Linked DNA regions of Homo sapiens. The protein of the gene in region 2 purifies or fractionates together with the protein of the main gene of each other region. This does not show direct contact. Each region holds a gene or a part of one and is shown on either strand. Other genes may lie near its edges.

Region 1 (3,500 bases), on a different chromosome or scaffold from region 2:
CCTCCCTTGTTTAAGACTTTAAACAGATTTATATTACTCTTAGATGAAGCCCAAGCCCCTTAGCATAGAAAACTTTGTCATTTATGATGTGGCTTACTATGTCTCATCTCTTAAAAGTCTCCTCCATTTTCCTCTAAAGACAAATCACACTGATTTCAGTTTCTGCAATTTCTTACACATTCTAAACTCCTCACCATAGGGCCTTTGTACATGCTGCCCTCACATTCACATACACCCTCACATACACCCTCACATACACCCTCAAGCCAACCCACACATCCCATCCCTCCCATTTCCCATCCTGGCTTTCTCCTCGTCATAATTTTTGCACTCAATATTACTTCTTCTAGGATACATATAAACTATTCAGTGTGGCTTTTATACAAATAATCTATATAAGTTGTACACTGCTTTTTCATTTTGTCCCCAAACCACCAAAACATTGGTAGATGGTCCATTTATAAGGAAGATGATGATAACATCTTGTTCATTTTGAGATAGGAAGAGATTATTTGCACTTTGAAATCACCTTTTTATTTTTCTACAAAAATATTTAATAGGCTAACTGCACAAAATTCAGTTGAATATGAATGGATATAGATGCCAGATGCCTATACTGGGGAAAAATATGTTAGAGAGATCCTACTTTATTTCCCATTGTTTATTAGCTGTGTGACATTGGGCAATTTATAACAACAAGACAACAAAAAAACACCTCTGAGCTTCAATTTTCTAAATTCCTTATACATTATAGAGTCCTGTTAATTAAACCTTCATTATAATAGATACTGACAGGGATAGGTATTTCTGTCCATCTTAGAACTACAGGATCTTCTGTGAAAAAAAAAATTCAGAGCAAAAAACATTTTCATTATTAACATATAAACAAGTCTTCTATAAAATAAACTTTTTCAAACAGATTTTGCAATTGGATTTCTAGTTTCAGCACTGACCTGCTGCTATTGACAAGCCACTCTGTCCCTTTACTCCATGAAAACTTTGGTTTCGGTGCAGCTTTAGGTTTGCATTCAATTATCACCCTTCCACCTTTAGCAGCCAGGATCTTTTTCTTCATAGGATTCATTTCAAAAGTTGGAGCCAACGCTAAAAAGAAAACAAATTGTTATCTTTCTCTTTCTGTTTGTAAAGCCTAAACATTGCTTCTGTGTTGTAGAATCTTTTATTCTCCTTAATAGTTAATGGAAAGGATTAATCTCGGTAAATATGATCAGCTGTCACCAATAGGCATTCTATACCTAATGCTTTGTAACTTTTATTTAATAACTTTGACTTATAAAATTCACCCAATTCAAATGTACAATTCTTGATGATAACTGAATTGATTATTAGAAACTTTAATTAGAATCCAGGCATGGGTGGCTCACACCTATAATCCCAGCAGTTTCAGAGGCTGAGGTGGGCAGATGGCTTACCCAGGAGTTTGAGAGCAGACTGGGTAACACGGCAAAACTCCATCTCTACCTAAAATACAAAAAAATTAGCTGGGCATGTTGGTGCATGCCTGTAGTCCCAGCTATCCAGGAGGCTGAGGTGGAGGATCACCTGAACCTAGAAGGTCAAGGCTGCAGTGAAGCGTGATCGCCTCACTGCACTCCAGGCTGGGCAACACCGTGAGACCCTGTCTCAATAAATAAATAACTTCAATTTCAATCAAATGTTTTATACACATTTACCTTAAAATTAACTCTGAATTCTGTTGCTTTGACTCAATTCCACAAGGAAAGTAAAGTGAAAGGCTGGAAAAAATTGACCAGCATTATACACACTGACATATGGTCCTAGTCAATCCTCTAAACCACATGTTGAATGAACTATTCCCAGTTTATAAATGAGAAAATTGAAATCTATTAGGATTATTTAATTTGGCAAAGGTACCACAGGTAGTAATAAGTGGGAGTCACATTTGAATCTAGGTCCTTCTGTTTCCAAAGCATGTACTTTTCATTAAACAATGCAGTCTCTCCTTCTTTATACAATTACTGAGCATCATCTGTATGCAAACACCCTGCAAAATGCCAAAATAATTGGAGTCCTGCTTTCAGGATCTATCTATAAACAGCTATGGGAATAATGGATCTAATCAACTAATTAAGGAGACATGATCATTTGTAGTTCATCATTACCTCCAAGTACAGAGCAATAATTATTAGAACAGAATACAGAGGCTTAAAAAAGGTTACTTCATTGATGTCATGCTCAGACTTTCCTCAGCATCCACACATTTAATCCACTGCTCACTCTCCTCTTCCCTTGGCAGACTCCAAGCAGATTTCATCCATATATTTCAACACATTACAATCATCCGTAACTATGTACTTTCTGGAGGCTTTTCTAGGCCTAAGCATATCTTCATCTGGGTTTTGACTCTTCATCCTCTGGTCTGGTCATTCTCAAAATTATCTTTGTATTAAAATCATCTGGGTATCTTTTTAAAGTGTCCATTCAGTAGGTCTGGGGTGAGCCTGGGATTCTGCACTTCTAATGTGCTCCTAGGTATGGCCACTGCTGCTGATGCTCTGAAGAAGACTTTTGTTGTGGCAAAGATTCATTCTATTCCATTGTTTCGTTAGTCTGAATTATGATAATTAGCAATAAATAAATCAGTAAACAACCAACATATGTTGTACACCTAACACAATACTGGGTATTTTGTGTAGGCTCAATAAACATTTTGTGTGATATGACATATTGCTTTAACAATGTTTAACAGAAATTAGAAATGATACTGACCCAAGATCTTCAACTCAGCATTTGCATAAATGGCTCCATATGTGTTTTCAGCTATGCACTGATACATTCCGGCATTTTCAAAAGTCACATCATACAGTCTTAATTCCCCTTTATGATACTGAAAAGAATAAAATTGAAACATATTCTCAATGAACTTTAATAGAAATACTTTCACTTAGGTCTGGGTTTGGTTGTCTTTTCATTTAGATACATTATGTTCATCTGCCCCCACTGTTACCTAAGATGAACTGAGTGGGATTTTCATGGCATGGGAAAGGAAAACCCACTTACCATGCCCAAAGGCTCTTGTTCTATTCATCCTACAGAGCTGAGAGTCCACCTTTTCCCCTCTTGGACCAGCTGGGAGATTACAGTGGGAAGGTAGAGAAGAATCCCACTGCTGCTACTTGTCCCCAGGGCCAAAGGTAGGACTTAGAGCTTCACTCTTACCTCTGTCTCTGTGGGGTACAGGAAAATAGTGGCAAGAAAAAGAGGACAATATCAGGTATTGGAGATGGATGAGTAGGAAGAGGGTGGAAAAGTGGAACAAAGGAAAAAAATAAGGAGAGAGAGAGAGAGAAGGTAGAGTAAGATTACAGAAAGTTGTTTAAACTGAAAGAAGATACTTTATGTTCAGTTTTTGTCTTTTTTAGGAAGCTTTTATATTTCAGGGCCCAAGTGCCCTTTCTGTATTGTCTCTCCTGCTAAATTTATCCCAGGACTACCCTGAAACACTGCTTGAACAGGGA
Region 2 (3,500 bases):
GCCTGGTCTACATAGCGAAACCCTGTCTCTACTAAAAATACAAAAGAATTAGCCGGGCGTGGTGGCGCGTGCCTGTAATCCCAGCTACTTCGGAGGCTGAGGCAGGAGAATCGCTTGAACCCGGGAGGTGGATGGAGGCTGCAGTGAGCCAAGATCGTGCCACTGCACTCCAGCCTGGGTGACAGAGTGAGACTCTAACTTGAAATAATAATAATAATAATAATAATAATAATAATAGGCTGGGCATGGTAACTTACGCCTGTAATCACAGCACTTTGGGAGGCTGAGGTGGGTGGATCACCTGAGGTCAGGAGTTCGAGACCAGCCTGGCCAACATGGTAAAACCCCGTCTGTACTACAAGTACAAAAATTAGTTGGGCATGGTGGCGTGCACCTGTAATCCCACCTACTTGGGAGGCTGAGGCAGAAGAATCGCTTGAGCCCGGGAGGTGCAGTGAGCCGACATTGTACTGCTGCACTCCAGCCTGCCTGGGTGACAGAGCGAGACTCCATTGCAAAAATAATAATAATAAGGAATGGCAGGCAGTGCTAACAAATACAGTAATATTGTGGTATTGTGGGTAATGAAAAAATACAATAGCACAATGAGTCATGTTAAAAATACTGTAGTATCAGAGGTAATGATGAATATAGTATGGTATAGAATGGAATATTTTTACATGCTACAATAGGATTAATTTTTGAAATACTATAGCATAGCATGGTGGGTAATAAAAATACCCGCCATGGTGGGGAACGTTAAAAATACGCTAGTATGATGGATTATAATAAAAATACTGTAGGCCAGGCGCGGAGGCTCTCTCCTGTAATCTCGGCACTTACGGCGGCTAAGGAGGGAAGATTATTTGAGGCCAGGAGTTCAAGACCATCCTGGGCAACATAGCAAGATCCAGTCTCTACAAAAAAAAAAAAAATTGCCGGGCGTAGTGGCTCACACCTGTAGTCCCAGCTACGTGGGAGGCTCAAGCAGAAGGATCGCTGGATTTCGGGAGTTCGAGGCTGCAGTGGGCTATGATCACGCCACAGTATCCCAGCCTGGGCAACAGAGCAAGACTTGGTCTCTTTAACAAAAAACAAAAAACTGTTGTGTTTGGCAATATTATGATAGTAAAATATATTGTGTAATATAAAATATCCTATAGTGGGTAATATAAAATACTATAATATAGTGGGTAATGTTTAAAAGGCAATACTACATATGGTGGGTAAAAAACACTAGAACTGGGTGGATAGTGCAGAAAACACAAACTCTGCAGGGCCAACATAAGGAACTGCATATGATGGTAAATGCTGGTAATAGCACAGGCTGTGGGATGTAGTGTCATACAGTGGGCAATCCTAAAAAAGAGAGGCTCAGGCCAGGCGCAGTGGCTCACACCTGTAATCCCAGCACCTTGGGAGGCCAAGGCAGGTGGATCATTACCTAAGGTCAGGAGTTCGAGACCAGCCTGGCCAATGTGGGGAAACTCCATATCTACTAAAAATACAAAAATTAGCTGGGCTTGGTGGCACATGCCTGTAATCCCAGCTACTCGGGAGGCTGAAGCAGGAGAATCACTTGAACCTGGGAGGCAGAGGTTGCAGTGGGCCGAGATCACGCCATTGCACTCCAGCCTGGGCAATAATAGCAAAACTCCGTCTCAAAAAATAAAAATCTAAATTTAAAAAAAAAAAAAAAGAGGCTCTATTGGGTCACGGCGTACAGAGGACACAACACCCTGGCCAACTGCCAAACAACAAGATGGAAAGAACCTGGGTGGCTGAACAGTGCCCTGGAGCCTCCCACCCTCTCCCCATCTCACCTCTGCAGATTTGCAAGAGCAATAACACAGGTTTTGTAAAGTCCCAGTACCGCAGGCATCTTTGTCACAGCAACTCCGCAGGCGGGGCTCCATCATCCATGTCTGCGGGTGACCCCCACCCCCCAGCATCGTGACAAACACCAGAGTGGCTCAGACATGCCTGCTGAATTGCATTCTGCTACACCAATTTGACAATAAACGTAAAAATGCTAATTATAAAAAGAAACCCACAGGCTCTGGCTGATCACAGAGTACAGTGAATCATGCCAAGAACAGAAACACAGTCACCCAAGCTCCTCTGGATTCAAGTCCAGCTCCCAATCACATGACCTTGGCCACATAACCTTCCCTCCCTGAGCCTTGGTTTTCTCATCCGTAAAATGGGGATAGGAAGAGCCCCTACCCCAGAGGGTGGGGAGAGGATTCACTAAGGGACTCCGTGTAAGGCACTGAGGCCGGCACCCATCTCACAGAAAAGATGGGCAGTGCGTGTTGCCCATGAGGATGTGTGTGCCGTGGCCCTGAGAGACCTTTCTGCCACGGCTTGTAGCTGCTTCAAGGCCTGGGCTGTTTCCCCAACTCTAAGCCAGTGGCCACAGGGCGCTGGACAATTGCAATTGATGCTGAGCAGAAGATGGATCAGAGAAGGGGCGGACCTCCCTCAGAAAAGGGGTCCAGGGTGGCTGAGGCAAAATGATGAGACGTTCAAAAGCGCTGTAGGCCCTTGCTGCTCAGAGGGTGGGCCCCGCACCTGTGGCCCTTCACTGCCTCACCTGAGAGCTTTAGAAAGGACCCCTAGGCCCGCCCCAGAGGTGTTGAGTGAGACTGCAGGCCAGCGCGGCTCCCCCGGGGCAGGAGTGCAGAGGGGTGTGCGGAACTCTGCTCTAGGTGGCACGCTCTCTTGCCTCATCACCACAGAGGGCAGCAGGGCTGAGCTACTCGAACAGTAAGAACCGCCACCCTCGCCACCACCTGCAAGGCTCTGCTGGAAGCCAGGCGTGTGCCTGCAGCTGCTCAATCCTCATGAACCCCATGATGGAAGAATGGCTCAAACCACACCCCGAGAAACACATCGGATTATTATCCCGGGCAAGCCCAGGACAACCCTTTGGCTCAGAGACAGAAGGCACCTGCCAGAGGTCATACAGCACAGGTGACAGAGCTGGGTTCTGTACCCGGAGCGTCTGTGGGGGACAGGCATGCTTTGACCTCTCCGTGGGCTGGAGAGAAACAGAGGCCAGAGCTGGAGTGGGCAGGAGGGGCTGCTCCCCTCCCCCTCAGCCCGCTGCTGTGGGCGGTTGGCTGGCCAGGCACAGAGCCAGCCTGTCCTGTCCACTGCCTGCCATCTGTCCCTCCATCTGGCTCTCCGGTGGGTGACGGTAAAGGGGCAGGCAGCACCCGACTCACCTTTGTCCACTACCTCAATGTGGATCTTCTTGACGACGCTGGTGTTGTGCTCGTAGTTTTCGAAGAAGAGCAGGCGGTAGACGTGGCACTCGTAGTCGCCCGAGTGGTTGTAGGTGACATTGGTGATGAAGATAGACAGATCCTGCAGGTCTTTGGTGCCCCGGCTGCCATTCCACACCACGCGGCCCTCGAAGCGCTCATCCTCCTCCAGCTGCAACACCTCATTCTCATAGCGCAGGATCTAGGGGTAGCCAGGGAGGGGAAGGTGTC

Evidence for each region.
Region 1: the proteins of SCN1B (region 2) and CNTN1 purify together in Homo sapiens (affinity purification with western blotting, with the first as the bait; one study listed by BioGRID). This does not show direct contact.

What each region holds. Positions count from the first base shown.
Region 1 is NC_000012.12:40,936,939-40,940,438, reverse strand, and holds part of CNTN1 (contactin-1 isoform 1 precursor), read right to left. Parts: intron 2,870-3,500; coding exon 2,752-2,869; intron 1,105-2,751; coding exon 954-1,104; intron 1-953. UniProt on the Homo sapiens protein: Contactins mediate cell surface interactions during nervous system development.
Region 2 is NC_000019.10:35,033,470-35,036,969, reverse strand, and holds part of SCN1B (sodium channel regulatory subunit beta-1 isoform a precursor), read right to left. Parts: intron 3,472-3,500; coding exon 3,231-3,471; coding exon of another isoform or gene 2,872-3,230; exon of another isoform or gene 1-2,871. UniProt on the Homo sapiens protein: Regulatory subunit of multiple voltage-gated sodium (Nav) channels directly mediating the depolarization of excitable membranes.